Homo sapiens: one gene and its partners. The protein of the gene in region 3 interacts with the protein of the main gene of each other region in a pairwise test. Each region holds a gene or a part of one and is shown on either strand. Other genes may lie near its edges. The genes, in order: CHIC2, CCDC87, CDR2 and CDK18.

Evidence for each region.
Region 1: the proteins of CDR2 (region 3) and CHIC2 interact in binary tests that used the Homo sapiens proteins (3 or more experiments, as listed by UniProt).
Region 2: the proteins of CDR2 (region 3) and CCDC87 interact in binary tests that used the Homo sapiens proteins (3 or more experiments, as listed by UniProt).
Region 4: the proteins of CDR2 (region 3) and CDK18 interact in binary tests that used the Homo sapiens proteins (3 or more experiments, as listed by UniProt).

The regions. Positions count from the first base shown.
Region 1 is NC_000004.12:54,047,569-54,054,606, forward strand, and holds part of CHIC2 (cysteine-rich hydrophobic domain-containing protein 2), read right to left. Parts: intron 1,738-7,038; coding exon 1,683-1,737; intron 1,543-1,682; coding exon 1,387-1,542; intron 1-1,386.
Region 2 is NC_000011.10:66,590,052-66,597,195, reverse strand, and holds CCDC87 (coiled-coil domain-containing protein 87), read left to right. Parts: upstream 1-4,132; 5' UTR 4,133-4,180; coding exon 4,181-6,730; 3' UTR 6,731-7,020; downstream 7,021-7,144. Other genes in the region: CCS (copper chaperone for superoxide dismutase), read right to left, coding at 3,482-3,554, 3,896-3,934. UniProt on the Homo sapiens protein: Plays a role in spermatogenesis, where it is important for normal sperm head morphology. Also required for the acrosome reaction and thus normal male fertility.
Region 3 is NC_000016.10:22,345,402-22,350,623, reverse strand, and holds the end of CDR2 (cerebellar degeneration-related protein 2), read left to right. Parts: intron 1-774; coding exon 775-923; intron 924-1,180; coding exon 1,181-1,345; intron 1,346-2,800; coding exon 2,801-3,659; 3' UTR 3,660-4,688; downstream 4,689-5,222.
Region 4 is NC_000001.11:205,528,650-205,533,309, forward strand, and holds the end of CDK18 (cyclin-dependent kinase 18), read left to right. Parts: intron 1-349; coding exon 350-447; intron 448-674; coding exon 675-780; intron 781-871; coding exon 872-914; coding exon of another isoform or gene 915-1,124; exon of another isoform or gene 1,125-1,603; intron 1,604-1,609; coding exon 1,610-1,700; intron 1,701-1,978; coding exon 1,979-2,056; intron 2,057-2,694; coding exon 2,695-2,729; 3' UTR 2,730-4,141; downstream 4,142-4,660. UniProt on the Homo sapiens protein: May play a role in signal transduction cascades in terminally differentiated cells.

The DNA of each region.
Region 1 (7,038 bases), on a different chromosome or scaffold from region 3:
TATTCTCACTCATAGGTGGGAATTGAACAATGAGAACACATGGACACAGGAAGGGGAACACCACACACCGGGGACTGTTGTGGGGTGGGGGGAGGGGGGAGGGATAGCATTAGGAGATATACCTAATGTTAAATGACGAGTTAATGGGTGCAGCACACCAACATGGCACATGTATACATATGTAACTAACCTGCACGTTGTGCACATGTACCCTAGAATTTAACGTATAATAATTAAAAAAAAGAAACCCTGTCTCTATTTTTTTAAATACATTTTTAAAAAATAAAATTTATTTATTTAAAAAAATTTTTTTAAAGTATCATTTTTATACATATAAATACAATTTTTGAAAATTTTAACAAGAATATAATACATTCAATCTATAATAATTTGTCATATCTCTACCAACATCTTAAAATTTTGTTTATTTGTTTGTTGAGACAGAGTTTCACTATTGTTGCCCAGGCTGGAGTGCAATGGCACGATCTCAGCTCACTGCAACCTTCGCCCTCCAGGTTCAAGCGATTCTCCTGCCTCAGCCTCCTGACTAACTGGGATTACAGGCACCCGCCACCACGCCTGGCTAATTTTTTGTATTTTTAGTAGAGACAGGGTTTTACCATGTACGCCAGACTGGTCTTGAACTTCTGACCTCAAGTGATCCGCCCGCCTTGGCCTCCCAAAGTGTTAAAATTGCAGGCATGAGCCACTGTGCCTGGCCAGAATTTTTTATTATAAGCAGTCAAAATAATGAGTCTTTGAAATTATTTTTTCTGATTACAGAATCACTTTGTGCTCACTACAGGAAACTTGTAAAATATAAAAAGCAGAAAAGAATGTCCCATAATCTTACCAACAAGAAACAACCATTGTAACCATTTTATTTCTTGTATGGGTACCATCTTACAGTCAGTAAGAATACTATTAATTAATACTTATTAACCACTTCCTTTGAGATATTCAGCTAAGAGTTTTCCAAACATTTTCATTTTACCTTTATATTCAAGTAGTAGGTGAACATTTTACAGTTGTGTCAAGTAGGGTTTAAAGAGGTTAGGAAACGTGCCTAAGGTCACAGAGAAAAGTGGTAGAGCTGAAGCCAGCATCCTTGATCACTATACCACACCACTGTCAATGTACAGATACAGACAATGCCATACACTACTCCTTGCTTCTAAAATTATAAATATAATTTTTAGATGGCTATTTAATAACAGCACTTGGATATATAGTAACTTTACTGACTCACTCCTCTCCTGGATCAGATTATTTTCATATTTTATTCAGGATAGTGTGATTCATTCAATACAAAAAATAAAAACTAGATAAATGCAAGACTTGCTTGTCCACTTCTAAATTTAAATTAAAATATATAATTCAACTTACTCTTTTACTGAGGCAAATAACTGGCCACATACTGCAACCTAATGTGCAGCAGCAACAAAGGCAGCCACAAAGTAGCCAACGTACATTAACAGGAAGGTTCTTCTTAAGACAACTGTTAACTCTGTTGATGCTGGCTTTAAATTCTTCAGGAGCTACCTAAAGAAAAATTTTAAGAAATAATAACAATGCAATATTAATGTCAAAAAACATGACTGATGAGCATACTTTTTTCTAATTTTCTCAGAAAAAAACTTTCATTTTGAGGCATACAAATAGTACATAAATGAGACACTCACTTTTCCAGTTAATGAAGAAGGGAATTCAGATTCAAATTTGTTGCTCAGTCCAAATCTATTTTAAAAAATAAGAAGAATATGTTATTACATGTTATTGTTGCCAAAAATGTAGACCATTTAATTTAAAGGTCAAGTCAATAGAAAGCATTTTCACATATGGAGGAAGTTTTAGACATAAAATGGAAGTTTGAGATAAAATAACTGTAACAAGCAATTTATGAAATGTAACAATTATTTTAGCAGTTAAATGGAAACTTTTGCATAATGATAAGGGGCTGAATGTTAATTAACCAGCAGTATGTAAACAAAAATATAAATGGTTCATTTAATTTGAGCTACCAACTTTATATCTTAAAAAGTAACTACAAAGCATATTATTTTAATGGGTGGGATAGCGATTTTTTCCAGCTTTTAATGTTATTGGTGGAAACAAACAATACCTGTGAATTTTAGCAGGTGTCCTACACAAGCAATAAGATGAGAAGGAAAAATGCAGGAAAAAGAGTGAGGAGGGGAAGAATAAGGAAAAAGGGAGAGAAAAAATAAAAAAGTAGGAATGGACAAAGTGCTACCAAGAACCGTCTTAGGTTCCATTGAACACCTATTTGTCAGTGCATTAGATGGTATGAAAGAAAATGTAGACGTGTACTATACCTATATCTATTCCTATTACCTAAAAGACCTTTTCTTGAATCATGGTTAAAATATTCCATGGCTTTAGAATTGATAAAAGATTTAAACTATTTTCAAAGAATGGTAAATATAACAAGAAGATAAAAGACATAATAAAAACAACCTATCTTGCTTTTATCTATCAGAAGTCTACCAGTACTTGGAGAACAGAGAATTCATTCAAATCACAACTACTGAGCACATTCCATGCAACACTTCAGTGCAGGCTTTTATGGCTTTTACAGCTTCCTTTGTTTCCTTAAGAAATCACACACGAGACCAATTTTACTTTTATATAATTTGAGATAATTTTGAAAGTTCATGTAATACACTGTAAAGTTTTGAAGGGGGGACTCCAACTTTACACCTAAATCTAAATGGAATCTTGAAACAGGCTTGTTTTACTCATATCCCACATACATCCATTTCACTATCTCTACATTCCTCCAGTCTATAGTCATAACTCTGCAAACCACTCCAATCTGTTATCCTGCTTTCTCATGATCATCATATTCAAGTTTATCTTTCCTGATAGACCTTGAAACCCTCAATCTGTTGATCTGCAGCTATCAGGATACCTCCTTATATCTTATCTTAAAAAACAAAACAAACCTTAAATACATACAGTCATGTGCCACATAACAACGTTTCAGTCAGGACATACTAGAAGGTGGTCCCACAAGATTTTAATACTGTATTTTTACTGTACCTTTTCTATGTTTAGATACACAAAAACTTACCACTGTGTTATAACTGCCTACAATACACAGTACAGTAACATACTGTACAGGTTTGTAGCCTAAGGGCTATGGGCTATACCATATAGCCTAGATGTGTAGTAGGCTACACCATTTTAAGTTTGTATACACACACTCTGTGATGTCTGCACAATGATGAAATTGCCTACTGACCCATTTATCAGAGTAGTCCCCATAGTTAAGCACCACATACTTGTATATATCTTCACTTTAACCAAAAACCCTGTTGAAATGCCACTCTTTCCTTAGAAATCCTCAACTACAGTTCACTCCTGACCTTATCTATTCTAAAGAACTTTACCTCCTGCACCTCCATCTAATTCAGCAACCTACTCACTGTGATATATTCTGCATATTGTCATCACTTGGGACTGTATCACCTCTGAAATTCTGAACTGTAAAATTCTTCTCTTACCACTGCCATCAATCATTTCATTTCTCCCATCCTTACTAAATTTGTTTTTTGGCCTCTGGTTGTAATATATTGCTTCCCACCCCTCCATAGCTCCCTATGACTCCATTTCCTTCCTTATTTGCCAGAACTACATAGTCAATCATTTTGAACATACTCCAACAAACACCTTTAATCATCTCTACAGTGTCCCTTGCCAACCCAGGTTCAATTAAATTGTTTACCTTCTTCACACTGCCTGGAGCTACTGGAGAAAAATCACATTTATAAATGTATCACCAATAATAAATATATATATAACATACATATCTTATTTCTAATCTCATGAGTATTATTGTAACAATCTTTATTCATCCCCAGTAAGTTCTCTTTTCCATGCTCCGTAGTTGTTGTGCCTGTCTTTAGGTACTCCACTTTATCCTCACAACCAACATTTTTTTGCAAATAACCACAGTTGTCAACTCTGAGAGAAAAAAATGTCATGGAATATAAACTGCTTTACCTTCCCTCCCTTTTATTTTTGGATTTACTTATATATCTTCAGTATTTTTACCATCTCTCAATGGAGGAAAGCTTCCAAAAACTAACCATTTACTTCTGAGTGCATCTCCTCCAGTCTCCTCTGCAATTCACTGTATTTCTACCTCGCTTCAGGCTCCTTAAACATAGCCTACAAACCTGAATTAGTCTATCCACCTGAGGATGTGAATCCTTATTTCTTCTTCTCTCTCAATGTCTGATGGCATCTATTTCTTTCCTTCCTCAACTAATGTTTTGAAAGACTCCTTTACATTAACTATCTTTACGTTACCTCCCATTCATTATTCAAACTACCACAATCCAGGCTTTCCTACACACTTCTTTACTAATAAGACTGTTCTCATCAGAGTAGTTGAAAACAACTCTTTTCAGCAAGTCTTCTTTCATATAGCATGCTTTCTCCTGGCAAAGAGCTTGAATGTCAGAATTTCTTATTTGGCACAGGCCACAGCAAATATCTCCTTTGCTATGTTTTTCATCCCTGCCAAAACCTTTTTTTTTAATCCAAATCTAGACCAACCAAAACAATAGTAGCAGGTAGAATTTTAGCAAGACGGTCTTATTTTATTAAATGGATAGGAAAAGTCACACTTCTTGTTTGATAATATAACTGTAAAATATCACCTCTAATGATTTATTTTTGACATAAACCACTTAATTTTGACAATACCTTAGTTCTGGCTTCTTTTTTAAGTTCAGCAGGAGGCAGAGACTGTTAGAATGAAAATGGCATCTATGTTTTGTTTTCAATTGACAGCATTATAAATGTACCTACAAGTTTACATAAAACTTTTTATATATGGTAAAAATAATTTCCTTTATTCTAAGACAAAGTACAACTGGTTCAGCACAGTATTAGAAAGGCCAAGTTTCATCCCATAAAATAATAATTTGATGTACTTGAAAGAAGAGCAATGATTCCTGCATTGAGTAGGAAGCTGAACCCCCTTCAGACTCTAATAACCAAACATTCTACTAATCCAAAAAGCCAGAAGTAACACTTGGATAATTTTTAAAAATATGATTTAAAGTAGGTGGCATCTTAATTCAGTTATCTACAAGACTAATTAAATTTTAAAAAATATTTTATGTTGGCAAGAAGGTCAAGATGGAAAAATATCACACACTGTCAATGGAACTATAAATTGTTACAACCATTTCAGATTAATTTGGCATTGAAAATATTTATACCTTTGTCATACTGTTTTCTCTTTAGAAATGTAATATTACCTAAAAAATAACTTGAAATGTGGATTAAATTTATGCATAAACAAGTTCATTGAATCTTTATTCACAAATATAAATATGTATCTATTTACAACATTTTAGGAATGGTTAAGAAAATTATCTTATCTCAATATAACAGAATATTAAACAACCATTAAAAATGAAATTTGCAAACTAAAAACACAGAAATACCATTGAACATAAACTTATTTACCTTCCCTCCCTTTCATTTTTAGATTTATTTATGTATCTTCAGTATTTTTACCATCTTTCTCAATGGAGGAAAATGTTGAAGAAGAAAATTCAATATACCATGATATTAACTGAAAAGAACAAAAATCTTGCAAGTTGATAGAATTTTCAGGAGTGCCATCTGGTAGTATGTAAAACGGGTCTTAAAAAATATTCCTACCCTGGCTGGGTGTGGTGGCTCACACCTGTGATCCCAGCACTTTGGGAGGCCAAGGCAGGTGGATCACCTGAGGTCAGGAGTTCGAGACCAACCTGGCCAACATGGTGAAACCCCATCACTACTAAAAATGCAAAAATAGCTGGATGTGGTGGTGGGCACCTGTAATCTCAGCTACTCAGGAGGCTGAGGTAGGAGAATTGCTGGAACCCGGAGGCGGAGGTTGCAGTGAGCCAAGATTGCGTCACTGCACTCCAGCCCGGGCTGACAACAGTGAGACTCAGTCTCAAAAAAAAAAAAAAAAAAAAAAAATTCCTACCCTTTGACCCAGTAATTCTACTTCCAGAAATGTATCAAGAGAAAATAGCTGCAGTGGCACAGATATGTTAATGAATAATCAAGTATTCTGCAGTGTTATTTTAGGGAGGGGGTATTAAAGACATTTTGTGTCATTTGTTTTTTTTTAAATAAGAGCTATTTTTCAGAAATGTATAGTTCCTGCTAACTAAATAATTGACGAGTATTTTATTTTATTTTTTTGAGACAGAGTCTCGCTTTGTTGTTCAGGCTGGAGTGCGGTGGCGTGGTCTCATCTCACTGTAACCTCTGCCTCCCGGGTTCAAGCGATTCTCGTGCCTCAGCTTCCCAAGTACCTGGGATTACAGGTGCTCGCCACCATGCTGGGCTAATTTTTGTATTTTTAGTAGAGACGGGGTTTCACCATGTTGGCCAGGCTGGTCACAAACACCTGACAAGTGATCCGCCCACCTTGGCCTCCCAAAGTATTGGGATTACAGGCGTGAGCCACTACACCCGGCAGACAAATATTTTATAATGTACAATACCACCCTAATTTTGTTTTCTTATTTGAATATTTTATTTGGTATTAACTAGGTATTTTAAGATAAGTAAACAAGGAAATTTAGGTTCACTAATCAATAGTTTTCTTGAATGCATTTCAATGTTTTCCATAGTTCAAGTCCATCTAATCCTCTGTCCTTCTTACTTCAGTTTTAACTTCTTCTATGTTCCTTGTATCTCCTCATATTAACAATGTCTCTTGGCATTCACTACTGAGCTATCATTTTAAATTAAGACATGTTTTGAACTCATAACGAATTTTGCTTTTTAAATGCAGAAATGCAAGAATCCACTGCTTCAACTTGTTTTGCCCTTAATCAAAAATATATGTTCAATGTTTCTTTTCTTCTGAGTTACAGTGATATTTTTAACAGTGAAATTTTTAAAACAGAAATATCTTATAATTAAATTAATTATAATACAACAATCTGAAAAGATGCTACACAGCTCAAAACCATGTATACTAGAGAGAGTAGT
Region 2 (7,144 bases), on a different chromosome or scaffold from region 3:
TGAGCCACTGCGCCCAGCCGAATTATATCTTAATAAAGCTATTACACACATAAAAGGCAGGGACTATTGCCATCATTAGTAGAGCTAACACTTACTGGGCATGGACGGTGAGCGAATCCTGTGTTTTACCTGTCTTAACATATTTGGTACTCCTACTAAGCCTCTAAGTTAGGTACAATGATCCCCATTTTACAGATGAGAAAACTGAGGCACAGAAAGATGAAGAAACTTGCTCAAAGTCGCACTGTAGTAAGTTGTGCAACTGGACCTCTGACCATGCAGCCTAGCTCCAGAGCCCCAGCACTTAACCCAGATATTGTACTCACCCTAGGAAGCAGCCCTTAGGCTCCAAGCTGGGTTAGGACCACACCCCTTGTGGTCCTGTAGCAGCTCACACTCCCCCTCCTGTAATTCACATTGCACTGACTACAATCCTGTTTCACTCCTAGGCCGCCAGCTCTGTGAGGGCAGGAGCTCTGTGAGGTCCACAAGGGTCAAGTTCAAAAGTCAGTTGTCGGCCGGGCGCGGTGGCTCATGCCTGTAATCCCAGCACTTTGGGAGGCCAAGGTGGGTGGATCACAAGGTCAGGAGATCGAGACCATCCTGGCTAACACGGTGAAACCCCATCTCTACTAAAAATACTAAAAAGTTAGCCGGGCATGGTGGCGGGCGCCTGTAGTCCCAGCTACTCAGGAGGCTGAAGCAGGAGAATGGCATGAACCCGGGAGGCGGAGCTTGCAGTGAGCCGAGATTGCGCCACTGCACTCCAGCCTGGGCAACAGAGCGAGATTCCGTCTCAAAAAAAAAAAAAAAAAGTCAGTTGTCAGATGGCCAGGCGTGGTGGCGCACACCCATAATCCCAGCACTTTGGGAGGTTGAGGCAGGTGGATCACATGAGGCCAGGAGTTCGATACTAGCCTTGCCAACATGGCAAAACTCCATCTTTAGTAAAAGTATGAAAATTAGCCAGGCATGGTGGTGCACACCTGTAATCCCAGCTACTCAGGAGGCTGAGGTGGGAGAATCAAATGAACCGGGAGGTGGAGGTTGCAGTGAGCTGAGATGGTGCCACCGCACTCCAGCCTGGGCAACAGAGCAGAACAAGACCCTGGCTTTTATGTGCAAAAGCTATTAGAGGGGGCAACAGAAGCAATGGGGAACCCATCAAAGGATGAGGTTCTTACACAGGCTAGGGAGAGGTGGGGTGGCCTGGAGCAGTGTGGAGGCCTAAGTATGTTTTGGACACATAGCAGATAAGATGTCCTGATGACAGGCCTCAGCATAGGAGGGTTCCCAGACCCTCAGGTCTCCAGAGAAGAGCTGATTCTCTGCTCCTGAAGTGGGAAGTTCCTTGTCACTATGTACCTCCTGAATTATTGACTGAGTCTAAACCAAGAGGGAGGCTGGTACCTTAGCCAAGCAGCCATTCAGTTTGCTCCTTGAGTTAAGACTGGTAGACCCTGGAATGTAGCCAGGCCCACCCTTGGTTGGCTCAGAGCCCAGTGAGAGAGAAAACAGAAGGCCACAGAGAACACCAGGGCAAGTGATAGAGATTCAAGGGGGTGAGCCTTGGGCTGGGGGATCCTCCTGCTTACCTCCTGAGAAGGCCTTCCCCCAGGCCTCCTGAGATGGCAACTCTCTTTCTCTGTGTGTGTGTATTCTAGAAAACTACAGCTTCCCTCCCTGGCCCCATGAGAAAGCCAAGCCGGACCAGAAAACACAGAGTCACCAGAAGTCTTTATCTGTTGCCTAAGAAACATGCTGAGGGCTGAAAACTGCTCCGGGTCCAAGAGAAAGGCCAGCTGTCTGCTCTCCTCGCAAGCAAGTAGTACAGGAAGTGGAGGGCCCATTCACCACCCAAAACGCGTAGTCTAAGCAAACCCAGCTTCAACATTGTCCCCTCCAGCCTCCTTCCATCCAGATCACCACCTGTAAGCCCTTCTTCTCATAATCCCCTAGGATTTACTGGGCTGTTATTACATGCCAAAGACTTTTCTAAATGCTTTTTTTGTATTAACTCGGTTACTCTTCAGGACAATCCTCCAGATTAGCTTCTATTATCATCCCCCATTTAACACAGAAGAAACAGAGACACAAAAAGTAACATGCATGAAGTCTTAGTGCCATTAAGTGGCAAAGAGGGGGTTTGAACTCTAGAGCTCATACCCCTAATCACTTTACAGAGTCCACCACTACCAGGGTCCCAGCTTCAGAAGCCATCTTATCTCATTCCCTCTCACCATTGCTCTTTCCACGAAGCATTCTGCGAATGCCATCCAGGCAACGCTTGCATGCTCATTTCCACCTGAGTGCAGGGGATGTGCCTGATACCCATGTGAACTCTTCTCCCTAAAAAGCCCCAGTGTCTGGTCCATACCTGCCGAATGACTGGGTGAACTTGTTTTTTTTTTTTTTTTTTTTGAGAGAGGGTCTCACTCTGTCACCCAGCCTGGAGTGCAGTGGAGCGATCCAACTCACTGCAGCCTCCACCTCCTGGACTCAAGCAATCCTCCTGCTTTGGCCTCCCCAGTAGCTGGGACTACAGGAGTGCACCATGACGCCCAGCTAATTTTTGTATATTTTATAGAGGAGGGTTTTCGCCATGTTGCTCAGGCTGCTCTCAAACTCATGGACTTGAGCAATCTACCTACTTTGGTGTCCCAAAGTGCTGGGATTACAGGCGTGAGCCACTGAGCCTGGCCTGGATAAACACTTAACAGAATCAAAGGAAGCCAGTTCCCAGAGCCATGCTGGTGGCTCTACCTTTCCAGATCTTTCTCATTGTGCCAGGTCACCTCCAGACCAGCTGGCCTTTTATTTATTATTATTATTTTTTTGAGACGGAGTCTCACTCTGTTGCCCAGGCTAGAGTGCAGTGGCGCGATCTCGGCTAACTGCAAGCTCCGCCTCCCGGGTTCACGCCATTCTCCTGCCTCTGCCTCCCAAGTAGCTGGGACTACAGGCGCCCACCACCACGCCCGGCTAATTTTTTGTATTTTTTAGTAGAGACAGGATTTAACTGTGTTAGCCAGGATGGTCTCGATCTCCTGACCTGGTGATCCACCCACCTCGGCCTCCCAAAGTGCTGGGATTACAGGCATGAGCCACCACACCCAGTGGTATAGAAAGCTACCCAGGATGGTATAGGGCCTGAGCTGCTGTTTGCTTTGTCAAGATTATGTTGTTTCCCAAGCAAAAACTGCCTGTTTTCCCAGGAACTCCCTCAGCCTAGCTCCTCAGTCTCTGGGGCACCTGAGGTTCAGGACAACAAGACAGGCAGTTAGAATCTGTCAGGGCAAGCTGGACAGCTGTACTCTAGGCTCTGCCTCCAGGTCTGTGTGTAACTCTGAGAACATGCCTTTCACTCTCTGGGGTTCACTTTCTGCATCTGTAAAATGGGAGTAGGGTTCGCCTAATAGATTCGCCTGGTCCCTCCCAGAGGCTTCTGGACTGTCTGCAGAAAAGTTTACCCTGTTCTTACCTGCCACCCCTTGCAGGGATTTGCGCACCGCGTCCACACAGCTCTGACAGGTCATCTGCACCGCGAACTCCAACTGCAAGGGCGGCAGGGACCAACCGATGATCGCTGGGGAAGTGCCTTGGTATGACTTTGTTTCACCACCTACCCTATGACCACCGCAAGGGTCTGGGAACAAGCCCCACTTAACCCCTCTTCAAGCACCTTCTTCATGATCTCTCATGACCATTCCAGGACCATGGGAGTCACCCCCCAACACTCACGCAGGGCCCCTGCTACCCTCGCACCCTAGTTTCATCCCATGGCCCCAGGCCCCAACCCAAGTGCCCACTCCTTCTCCTCTTCCCAAGGTAACGATCATCCCAGGGGCCGAGGCTCTCTGCCCGGCGAGGCTCCACACGAAGCCTCGACCCTCACCGTGCAGAGGGTCCCCTGGTTCCCCGAATCCGAAGCCATTCTGGACCCAGTCACCACCCCGAGACGCAGAACTCCTCCGGCGCAGGAGCACCAACCAGCGCGGCGTCGCGGGGACTGAGCCTCTAAAGCCACCCTTAACTCCTCCTCCTAGTGCGTGCGCACGCAAGGCCCTGCTTCGTCAGCCACCGGGTGGCGGCCGCGCAGGCGCACTCGGGCCGTCGGGCTCCTGGTTGCCTTAGTAACCCCTCGGCTTTCTGTTCCTGGACGGTGGCGGCCGCCGGCTCTATGATGGAGCCCCCGAAGCCCGAGCCTGAGCTCCAGCGGTTTTACCACCGGCTGCTGCGTCCGCTGTCGCTCTTCCCCACTAGGACGACGTCCCCAGAGCCTCAGAAGCGCCCCCCGCAGGAGGGCCGGATTCTGCAGTCCTTCCCTCTGGCGAAGCTGACGGTGGCGTCGCTGTGCAGCCAGGTGGCCAAGCTGCTGGCCGGCAGCGGGATAGCAGCGGGAGTGCCTCCTGAGGCCCGACTACGTCTCATCAAGGTCATCCTGGACGAGCTGAAGTGCAGCTGGCGGGAGCCGCCCGCCGAACTTAGTCTGAGCCACAAAAACAACCAGAAGCTGCGGAAGCGGCTCGAGGCCTACGTGCTGCTGAGCAGCGAGCAGCTCTTCTTGCGCTACCTGCACCTGCTGGTGACCATGTCGACTCCCAGGGGGGTCTTCACTGAATCAGCCACCCTCACCCGGTTGGCCGCCAGCCTCGCCAGGGACTGCACACTCTTCCTTACTAGTCCCAACGTCTACCGTGGCCTGCTTGCCGACTTCCAGGCCCTGCTGAGGGCAGAGCAGGCCTCTGGGGATGTGGACAAGCTGCACCCTGTCTGCCCCGCTGGGACGTTCAAGCTGTGCCCTATCCCCTGGCCTCACAGCACTGGCTTCGCCCAAGTGCAGTGCTCTAACCTCAACCTGAACTACCTCATCCAACTCAGCCGTCCACCAGAGTTTCTCAATGAGCCAGGAAGGATGGATCCAGTGAAGGAATTGAAGTCCATCCCTCGGTTGAAGAGGAAAAAGCCTTTCCACTGGCTGCCCTCCATAGGAAAGAAGAGAGAAATCGACATCAGTTCCTCACAGATGGTGTCGCTGCCCAGCTATCCTGTGGCCCCCACCAGCAGGGCTTCCCCCTCGCCTTTCTGCCCTGAGCTCCGGAGAGGCCAATCCATGCCCTCCCTGCGTGAGGGCTGGAGGCTGGCAGATGAGTTGGGCCTTCCTCCACTCCCATCTCGCCCCTTAACCCCGCTGGTCTTGGCTACAGAGAGCAAACCAGAGCTGACTGGGCTCATCGTGGCTGAGGATCTGAAGCAGTTGATAAAGAAGATGAAGTTGGAGGGGACTCGCTACCCACCACTGGACTCAGGCCTGCCTCCTCTCCTGGGGGTTGTGACCCGTCACCCAGCTGCAGGGCATCGCCTGGAGGAGCTGGAGAAGATGTTGAGGAACCTCCAGGAGGAAGAAGCCTCTGGGCAGTGGGACCCCCAGCCCCCCAAATCCTTTCCACTTCACCCACAGCCAGTGACCATTACTTTGAAGCTTAGAAATGAGGTCGTGGTCCAGGCGGCTGCCGTACGGGTCTCTGATAGAAACTTCTTAGACTCTTTCCACATTGAGGGGGCCGGAGCCCTGTATAACCATCTGGCTGGTGAACTGGATCCCAAAGCCATTGAAAAAATGGATATTGATAACTTTGTTGGCAGTACTACCAGGGAGGTCTACAAGGAGTTGATGAGCCATGTCTCTTCTGACCACTTACATTTTGATCAAGGGCCCCTAGTTGAGCCTGCAGCAGATAAAGACTGGTCGACCTTCCTGTCCTCAGCCTTTCTACGTCAAGAAAAACAGCCTCAAATCATCAACCCTGAGCTGGTTGGACTTTACTCCCAGAGAGCAAACACTTTACAGTCCAATACTAAGAAGATGCCCTCCCTCCCATCACTCCAAGCTACCAAAAGCTGGGAGAAGTGGTCAAACAAGGCCTCCTTGATGAACTCATGGAAAACCACCTTGTCTGTGGATGACTACTTCAAGTACCTCACCAACCATGAAACAGATTTCCTTCATGTCATCTTTCAAATGCATGAAGAAGAGGTTCCTGTGGAGATTGTGGCCCCTGCCAGAGAGTCCCTAGAGATTCAGCACCCTCCCCCATTGCTAGAAGATGAAGAACCAGACTTTGTGCCAGGAGAGTGGGATTGGAACACTGTGCTAGAGCACAGGCTAGGAGCTGGGAAGACACCCCACCTGGGAGAACCCCACAAAATTCTGAGCCTGCAGAAGCATCTGGAACAACTGTGGTCTGTGCTTGAGGTCCCTGACAAGGACCAGGTGGACATGACCATTAAATATAGCTCCAAAGCCCGCCTGAGGCAGCTGCCTTCATTGGTGAATGCCTGGGAGCGGGCCCTGAAGCCCATTCAGCTGCGGGAGGCATTGCTGGCGAGACTAGAGTGGTTTGAGGGACAAGCTTCCAATCCCAACCGCTTCTTCAAAAAGACCAACTTGAGCTCCAGTCACTTCCTGGAGGAGAATCAGGTCCGAAGCCATCTCCACAGGAAGCTCAACTTAATGGAGTCTTCTTTGGTTTCCCTCCTGGAGGAGATAGAGTTAATCTTTGGCGAGCCAGTGATCTTCAAGGGGCGGCCCTACCTGGACAAGATGAAGAGTGACAAAGTGGAGATGCTCTATTGGCTGCAACAGCAGCGGCGGGTTCGCCACCTGGTCTCGGCCCTGAAGGATCCCCACCAGTCAACCCTGTTCAGGAGCTCAGCAGCCAGCCTTTAGTAGCTCCTGGGAATACCCCTATTACTCCTTGACCAGGCCCAGTGCCCTCAAATGCCTCCCTCACCCCTAAATGGCCAGCAGCTCATCTAGACCTCTTTACTGCTTTGGAAGAAGAAATATTTGTCTATATCTGGGAGTGGAGGGTTCAGGAACATTATGCTTCCAACTATGAAGGGATTGAGACTAAAACTATTGTTTTCTTAGTGAAATTCTCATGAAAGAATCCCCAAGCCTAGTAGTCCCATTATGTCAAGCCTTGCACAATACAAGCCAAATCTCCTATATCAAAAGAACTGAGACCTTGGAGTTAATTGTAGTGGGAAGGGTCAGAGGCAAAGGTGATCTTTGGAACAACTCACTTTAGCATTCCTATCACACTACATTAAATTGTCACCTCTTTTAGTTCTCAAACAC
Region 3 (5,222 bases):
TCTTTTCTTAAAATAAACATATGGTATTGTGGTATAATAAAAATTATATATTTGGTCTTTGTCCCTGGTTTCTGGCATAGAACTCCTAAAACCCTTGGAATTTCCTGATAGGTTGAGGTCTGGTCACCAGAGAAGGCAACCACATGATTAGAGGGTTAGATCTATCAGTCCCAGCCCCACAACCTCTGGATAGAGGGAAGGGTTGGAGCTTGAGTTCAGTCACCAATGGCCAATAATTGAATCAATCATGCTGATGTGAGAGAAGACCTGGAGAAAACTGAAATGGGTCTAAAGGAGCTTCTGGGCAGTGCTGGGAGGCCAGTGAGCCCAGAGATGGAGACTCTATGTCAGCCCCACCCCAACAAGAGTTGGTGCTGACAATCGGAGAATTGGTGTTGGAACAGCAGAACAGCAGGTATCTTTTTTTTTTTTTTGAGATGGAGTTTCATTCTTGTTGCCCAGGCTGGAGTGCAATGGCGCCATCTCGGCTCATTGCAACCTCTGTCTTCCAGGTTCAAGCAATTTTCCTGCCTCAGCCTCCCAAGTAGCTGGGATTACAGGCGTGTGCCACCACACCTGGCTAATTTTTGTATTTTTAGTGGAGACGGGGTTTCAGCATGTTGGTCAGGCTGGTCTCGAATTCCTAACCTCAGGTGATCCACACGTCTTGGCCTCCCAAAGTGCTGGGATTACAGGCGTGAGCCACCGCAGCCAGCCAAGAAACAGCAGGTATCTTATCTGTTTGTGTCACCTGGTCCTGATCTTCTCTTACAGTATCTGACGAAGCAAGTGGAACTTCTACGGCAGATGAACGAACAACATGCAAAGGTTTATGAACAATTAGACGTCACAGCAAGGGAACTGGAAGAAACAAATCAAAAGCTAGTTGCTGACAGCAAGGCCTCACAGCAAAAGATTCTGAGGTAAATTTTCTAGAATCTGACAAGGAAGGACTAGGGGGAAGTTCTTTAGTATAAACTAGAATAGAACATGGCTGCAGTGGGTTTGGGTCAATATGGGATAAGGTTTAATTTAATTCTTTTTGGAGAATGGAGATTAAATAGACATCCTTTCCAATTAAGAAAGCCCAGTGTGAGTGGTTTGCACCTAATCTCTCCTCACCGCTTTTGCCCTTGATTCAATATGACAAGCAGCAGTGGCTTCTGTCTGTTCCTCACAGCCTGACTGAAACGATTGAATGCCTGCAAACCAACATTGATCACCTCCAGAGCCAAGTGGAGGAGCTGAAGTCATCTGGCCAAGGGAGAAGGAGCCCGGGAAAGTGTGACCAGGAGAAACCGGCACCCAGCTTTGCATGTCTGAAGGAGCTGTATGACCTCCGCCAGTAAGAGCCTGCCTTTCTGTGGAGTTACAGCAGGGACTGTCTCATGTCATTGGCACATTCTGATTTCCAGTAGATTGAAAGTACCATTTTAAGAAAAGTCACTTAGCTATTAAGCTACCATTGGTTTGAACAAAATCACTTAAACATATAAATTACAGAGTTCTTAGATATTAGTAGTTCTCATTTTGAAAGTCTTGGAACACTTATTTCAGTGTTTTTAATGTATTAAATCATAGTTTAAGATGAATTCTGATAGACTAGATTTGGGAGTTGTGTTTTACATTAGAGTGAAGAAAAACAGAAATACTGGTAAAACAAAAATTCAAGCGAACAGGAGATTTTTTGCTTAAAGAAGTACCTTTATAATTTAGAGTTATAAGTCTGAATCTTTAAGAAGTATTTATGGAACACTTGTGTGGCAAGCTGTATGCTAGACCCAAGGGTTGGCGAGCAAAATAGTTTCTACCCCTGTGAGCTTTCAGTCTAACGGAACGGCAGATAAGCAAATAAAAACACAAATAAATAGTCAAGGTGCTTCAGACTGAGCAGGAGAAACCAGGTGGTTCATTTGGTGGGTCTCAACCTTGGCTGTACATCAGATCACCTGTGGGGTTTTTCAAAATGCAAATACCAACACATTTCCTCAGGCCTAAATCAGAATTTCTAGGTGCGGGTAAAAAGCTGCCCAGGCAATTCTGATGAACATTCCTGGTTAAAAATCACCACAGCAACAGTAATTTGCTGTAGTGATTCAATCGTAGTTACATATTATGAATCATTTGGAGAGCCTTTAGAAACCCTCAGGCCAGGTAGCAGACCAACTAGGTTGGAATCTGTGGGTTGGGACCCAGGCACCAGTACTTTTTAAGGTTTCCCTTGTGAGGTCATTGTCATACTGCTAGAATAGATGTTCTCTAGTACTTTTAACATTAAAAAAAGATTTGTCACAAAAATTGAGTTTGCTTTCATGTGTTTATTTACCAGCCTCACACAATTCCATTTTAGCCACTGCTCCAAGTGTGGCTAAAAACCAATCACTGTTGGCCGGGTGTGGTGGCTTACGTCTGTAATCCCAGCACTTTGGGAGGCTAAGGCAGGAGGATCACCTGAGGTTGGGAGTTCGAGACCAGCCTGACCAACATGGAGAAACCCCGTCTCTACTAAAAATACAAAATTAGCTGGGCGTGGTGGCGCATGTCTAAAATCCCAGTTACTCGGGAGGCTGAGGCAGGAGAATCGCTTGAACCTGGGAGGCTGAGGTTGCAATGAGCTGAGATCGCTTCACTGCACTCCAGCCTGGCGACAAAGTGAGACTCCGTCTCAAAAAAAAAGAAAAAAAAATTAGTCACTGTCACAGCTCCTCAAATTTATTTAGTTGAAAAAAAATCACCAGTCTTCCTCTCGTCATTTTCAGTGGACCTGTGTAATATATTCTTTCAATATTTTTTTCCCTAGACACTTCGTGTATGATCATGTGTTCGCTGAGAAGATCACTTCCTTGCAAGGTCAGCCAAGCCCTGATGAAGAGGAAAATGAGCACTTGAAAAAAACAGTGACAATGTTGCAGGCCCAGCTGAGCCTGGAGCGGCAGAAGCGGGTGACTATGGAGGAGGAATATGGGCTCGTGTTAAAGGAGAACAGTGAACTGGAGCAGCAGCTGGGGGCCACAGGTGCCTACCGAGCACGGGCGCTGGAACTAGAGGCCGAGGTGGCAGAGATGCGACAGATGTTGCAGTCAGAGCATCCATTTGTGAATGGAGTTGAGAAGCTGGTGCCAGACTCTCTGTATGTTCCTTTCAAAGAGCCCAGCCAGAGCCTGCTGGAAGAGATGTTCCTGACTGTGCCGGAATCACATAGAAAGCCTCTCAAGCGCAGCAGCAGTGAGACGATCCTCAGCAGCTTGGCAGGGAGTGACATCGTGAAGGGCCACGAGGAGACCTGCATCAGGAGGGCCAAGGCTGTGAAACAGAGGGGCATCTCCCTTCTGCACGAAGTGGACACGCAGTACAGCGCCCTGAAGGTGAAGTATGAAGAGTTGCTGAAGAAGTGCCAAGAGGAACAGGACTCCCTGTCACACAAGGCTGTGCAGACCTCCAGGGCTGCAGCCAAGGACCTGACTGGAGTGAACGCCCAGTCTGAGCCTGTTGCCAGCGGCTGGGAACTGGCCTCTGTCAACCCAGAGCCCGTGAGTTCCCCTACAACACCTCCAGAATACAAAGCGTTGTTTAAGGAGATCTTTAGTTGCATCAAGAAAACTAAGCAGGAAATAGATGAACAGAGAACAAAATACCGATCACTCTCCTCTCATTCTTAATTGAACCTCTAGCTCTACTACTAATTTGCCTATTGCCTATCGCCTCTCTCTCCCATTCAGACAAGTGTTTGTAGACTCTGAAGCCTAATGTTACTCATGACGTTTGCCTCATTGCTTTGCTTATTTAGCAAATGCATACAACGAGGAAAGGAGGTGGCTAGTGGTATCAGTTCTCTGATCCACTTCCATTTAAGCTCCCCAGGAAATCCCATGACAAACTGGCCTCTGGCTGGCGCGCTGATTAGACTTCAGTTCCTGAAAAGGACCAGTGGAGGGAAGAGCTATACTTCTGGAGAAGTAGGCCTGGAGTTACTACAGTATGGGGGAAAAGGGTCGAGTTAGAACAAAGCTAAGGCAATTCCTATTGCTTCCTTGCGCAACTTCTCAAAACGATGAAAGTCAGAAGGCTGTCAAACTCAAATATCTTTGCAAACAGTTTGAATACTGTGAATTCATTACGAAGAATGTTCGAGAGAAAGCAGGGGTCTAATCCAAAAGAAATGTCATTAACCAATACTCCAAGTCCTTGAGTTTTGTTATATCTGAACTAGTTGAACTGTGACTGACAGGTAATCCTAATATATCCAAATCCAACTGAATACCAAATTGAGATGGCAAATTTTTGTTTGATATAAGTTAGCTTGTTAGCATATGCCCTAGAGGGCCTCCATCCCTGTATTCTAATGTTTTTACTCAAAGCTCTAGCCTTTAGGATAGGTGAATATGTAAATCTTTTATCACTTTCTCAAATTCAAACTAAAGGGGAAAGATCAAACCCCTTCCCTTCCTACCTGTTTTCTGAGCTGGCTGACTTGCCAGCCACAAGCTGCTCTTGCAGAGTTCTTACCATTCCTGTAAATGTTTTGACTTGTTGCAGAAATTCCTATCTACTTTATTAAGCAGTATTGATCTGACTGTGGAAACATCCTCTCACTTGCATTCTTTTAACTTAAAACTATTTAAGAACTGATGTTCCGATTATTGTATATATTTTTCTAAAAACCAAATAAAGCTACCTATGAAAATGAACAGATGGATCTGTGTCTTACTTTCAATATAAGCCATTTCGCTCTTATAACCAACTGTTCACTTTTTTTCTTCCAACAAATATCGCGAGAAAGATTTGCAGTGATTTTTTTTTTCCTATTTTAAACAGGGAATCCTTGGATTTGTGTAACTTAATAGCACAAATTCTGCTCATATTGCTAAATGCTCATTAAAACTACTCTGGACAAACATTTTCAAATTTATATACTCTGTAATTTTCACTATTTCAGAAATGTCAGACTTGGTTCTGAATTAATAGCATTTGACAAATTGATTCTCAAAACATTTGATCAACCATAGCAAAGAAACTATACTATTCAAACTATACTATTCAAACTATACTATTAATGTTTGAATAGTATAGCTTATTTAAAAACAGTTTGCATTTCTATTAATAAGACAATATTTTTTAATCTGTTAGCCATTTGTAGTCTCCTTTGCCTATTTAAAGAGCTCTATTTATATATGCAGTTTTGCAGTTAGAAGTTTGAAAGTGTTTTGTCCCAGATTATCTTA
Region 4 (4,660 bases), on a different chromosome or scaffold from region 3:
ACTTCTCTTCCAGTGGGGCACACAGTGGAGAGAGTTTGAGACAACACTGCTGAGAGAATTGCCACATGGGCGCTGGCTGCACAGACCCAAACCTCACAGAGTGAAAGGGGACTTTCCTCACAGAGTGAAAGTCGCAGCTTTCCCGAGCCCAGGGAAGCCCCCCAGAGAGGGGCTGTAGTGGGGGCTGGGCAGTTCTAGGAGCCTCCACTGCCCTGGGCCACCCCTCCGCCGCCAGAGCCACGATCCCTGCAGCCGCCTGTGGCAGGTCGTCATTGGTGCCCTGGTGGAGCAGCCCTAGGAAGGGCGGCCGCCCCTGCCTGATGCCGACCCTACCCCTTGCTCCTCGCAGGGGCGTGGGCTGCATCCACTACGAGATGGCCACAGGGAGGCCCCTCTTCCCGGGCTCCACAGTCAAGGAGGAGCTGCACCTCATCTTTCGCCTCCTCGGTCAGTCTCCCGCTGCTCCGTCCCTCTCACCACCAGGGGGCGCCGGAACTCCTCCAGCCCAGGCGCGGAGCGGGACGGGGAGGAGCGGCTCGGCCGCCTCTCTCCCGGGCGGGGACCCCCTGTGGCCTCGGCCATCTTTGCTCCCACCTCATACATTGCATCCCTTTCAAGTCGGCCTTGGCCCTGGGCCTCACGCAGGCCCTCCCCACCCTCTCTCGTCTCCCCAGGGACCCCCACAGAAGAGACGTGGCCCGGCGTGACCGCCTTCTCTGAGTTCCGCACCTACAGCTTCCCCTGCTACCTCCCGCAGCCGCTCATCAACCACGCGCCCAGGTAGCCCCTGCGCCCGCCGCCCCTCCTGCTGCGGCCCTGGCTCTCCCATCCCCAATCAGGCACAGCCTGTGTCCGCGCCTTCTCCTTGCAGGTTGGATACGGATGGCATCCACCTCCTGAGCAGCCTGCTCCTGGTGAGTGTCCTCCCGGCGGGGCCCAGGGAGAGGCAGCCAAAGAGCCAGGTCCCTGTGCCCCATGCCGGGCCTACGCCCCAACTTCTGTGGCTCGTGTGCTTACACGTCTTTGAAACATCTCCCCTGTACTCTCCACCCCCAAGGCCAAGGGGTGGCCTCCATACACATCCTCTGGAGTCTGTGCACTGCGAGCCCAAACCCGTTACTTAGCTGTGTAGCTCTGGGCAAGTTACAGAGCTCCTCCATGCCTCAGTTTCCTCAGCTGCAAAGTGGGATTAATACCTATTTTATAAGATGGCCGTGAGGATACATTGAGATGACGGGACACACTTAGTGTGGTGCCTGTCTTGTAAGGCACACGATGAAGGGTTGTTATCGGCACTACGCTTCCTGTTACGGATGTTCTCCATCTGATCATGGTTGGTTTGCATCTGTATTTCTATCCCAAGAGAAGGTCACTCTCCTGAAGTTTCATTTCTGGTTTTTCCTGGTGGCTGGAGACCGAGGAGCCTTCCCCTGAGTCTTGAGATGGCCTGAGGTTGGGTTTGTGGTAGGGGCTGGAGGCTGACCTGGGGCTTCTCCTGTTAGCCTCAAGCCTCACCCACCTTGGTGCTCTAACCAGCACTGGAGTCCTGCTGCCCAGAGGGTTTGCAGCCCCCCAGCCGGGCCCAATAGCCCCACCCTGTGCCTTTCAGTATGAATCCAAGAGTCGCATGTCAGCAGAGGCTGCCCTGAGTCACTCCTACTTCCGGTCTCTGGGAGAGCGTGTGCACCAGCTTGAAGACAGTGAGTACTGGGGGTCCGGGAGCAGGGCCACCCAGAACCAAGGAAAGGGGTTGGTGAGTGTGGGCAGAAGAACCAGAACAAAGAGGCCAGAGGCCCCAGCCCCAGCAGAGCAGCCCCGGGCACCTTGCCTCCCCTGCTGGGGTTCTCATTCCAAATTGAGGGGGCAAACAGTGGAAATGAGACGCTGCCTCGAGGGCTCAGTTGGTCCTTCTGGGCCAGTCCTTACTGGAGGCCAGCTCCACGCAGCCCTCTCCAGACTATGCACTTCTCTCCCCCAGCTGCCTCCATCTTCTCCCTGAAGGAGATCCAGCTCCAGAAGGACCCAGGCTACCGAGGCTTGGCCTTCCAGCAGCCAGGTAGGGGCTTGTGCTCTCCTGGACCCCTCCCCTTGTTAGTGGAAGCCAGAGCAGGCGACCCCTCCCCAGTGGGGACTCCCATGGTCCCCCCACCACTGGCTTCCCTTTGGACTCTTTGGGGAGCAGAGAAGGGGTTGGTTTCTCCTGCCTAGACTTCCTCGTCCAGCTCTTCCCTCCTCAACCCTCCACCCCAGACAGGACATTGCATTTGACAGTAGCCCTGGCAAAGAGGCATGCTGTCTCTGGTGCATTCTCTCTGCAAACCCTGAGCTCTCTAATCAGATTCCATCCTGGGAGAACGGTACTTTGTTCCTAGAACAGTCAATGGCCTTGGACATTGACAAATGCTTTCCATGCATCGTCTTCTTTAATCCTTAAAATACCCCTTGAAGCTAGTACTATTAATATTCCCCATTTCATAGTCAATGAAACTGAGGCTCTGGGAGGTTAAGTCACAAGTTCATGCAGCTAGTAAGTAGCAGAGATGGGATTTGACACCAGGTCAGACCGGCTCCTGTTTGCATGCCCTTGCTTGCTCTGTCAGAGCAGCTCTGGGGGACAGCGACTGTCCCTGCTGACCTGGGGTACCCGTCAGCCCAGCCTCCTCCCTGCAGCCCCACCTCTTCTCCATTCTCCAGGACGAGGGAAGAACAGGCGGCAGAGCATCTTCTGAGCCACGCCCACCTTGCTGTGGCCAAGGGACAAGAGATCACATGGAGCACAAATTCGGGTAGGATGGAGCCTGTGTGGCCCTCGGAGGACTGAAGAACGAGGGCTGACAGCCAGCCTGGAAGACCGCTTGGCAGCCCTTCTGGCCACGGCTGTTTCTTCTTTGTGCTTCCCGTGTGCCTCCCCAGTAGCCCTCACCTGCATACCAACCCCTCCTTTACCCACGTTGGGGCTGGCATAAGCTGCTTCCCTGAGAGGACATGAGGGGGGGGCGGTCCTCGTACCCTCTCCCACCCTGGTGTTTGGGCACCTGCGTGGGATGCACACGGATGACAGAATCAAGGCGCCAGGATGGGCACTCTGCCCTGGATACAGGCTCTACCCTCCTCCCCCAGGACCTGCCTAGTGCCAGTTTGGTAGTCCCCCTTTCTGGCCCCTTGGAGCCCACACACGTTTCATCTTTTTCCCCTCTGAGAGCAAGAAGAGACATGGCATGTTCTCTGGGACCCTGGAATCCTAGGTACCCACATGTGTGCCAAAGCCTACCCCACCTGGCAGGTGTCCCACAGCAACAGAAGGAATAGTAGTCCCCACTCTTTCCATCAGCCCTACCCTACCCTCATTCCCCGACACCCTCTGGCTTGAACCATGGCTGAGCAGTGCCGGCATACGCTTTGCTGGCATGCTTGGATGCCCAGCTGTGTCCAGAGGTGGCCTGGGACCGCCAGTTGCACGCCTGCCACCTCAGCCAGCCCCCGCCCAGCTCATCAGTCTGAATGGAGTTGCCTTAAATTGGCAGGTGGTACCGTACTCACTGCCCTTGGAGCTGTGACCGGCTCCTGCCTGTCCACCCCTTCCCGAGGTGGCTCCTGCTTACCTTATCATCCCAGGGCTCTGATTAGCCAGGCCTGGTCAGGGTCCTGGGGACGGCACCCAGATATGCAGAGTCACCCTGACACTGGTGCCAGGCTGACCTCAGCTCCCGAAGGCTCGCACAGCCTCCCCATCCTTCCTTCCCAGCCCTTGTGGCTCTGTCCACCTGATCCCAATACCAGCTTCCCCCAGCCCCTGCCACCCCAGAGGGCGGCCACGACAGGGAGAGGTGTAGATGCCACCATCTGAGGGAGAGGAACGTGGAACAGGAGCAGGCTCTGATGCTGAGAGGCTTGCCTCCGGGGGCTGGAAGCCTGGGTGGCCGGGGCCCCTGAAGAAGGCTCCCCTCTGTATCCCCCAGGTCTCCTCAACACTGGGCTGATCCTGAATGGCACAGGCCAAGGGGAGGCCAGCCTCGCCTTTCTACCCAGGCCCCCTGCCCTGCCCACCTCAGGCCCCCACCCTCCACTCCTCCCCACGGTACTGTGAACGTCGTGTGACTCAGTGCAGAGACAGATAATATATTTAATTCATGTACAGAAAGGAGCGAGCAGTCTCGTACAGAAAAGCTGACTTTGATAGATTGATGCCAAAGATGGAGAACTGAAGTCCCCCCTCCAGGCCTAATGAGTGTGGGTGGGGTGTGCTTGTGTGTATGTGTGTGTGTGTGTGTGTGTGTGTGTGTGTGTGTATATATATATATATATATATATATATATAGTGAGGAGAGAGTTTGATTTGTGTGTATCTCTGACCTCCCCTACACCCCAGGCTGTGGGACGAGTGCCTAGCATTCACCTTGCTGTATCCTGGGTGCTGCTGCGTTCAGAGCCAGAAGTTGGCTCTTGCTGAGGAGCATCAGTGGTTGTTGTGGGTGGGCAGAGGAGTCCCAGGCCTGGGAGTCTGACCTGTGGCCTGGCATTGGCCCAAGTTGGTGCCTGTGGGGTGGGGCTGGCCAGGAGAGCAAAGAGGGACCCCTGGGCGGGGGTCTGGGGTCTGGCCGTGCAGCTAATCCCTGTGTTCCTGATGCCAAATGGCCCCCTGGCTTCTGGGGAGGGAGGT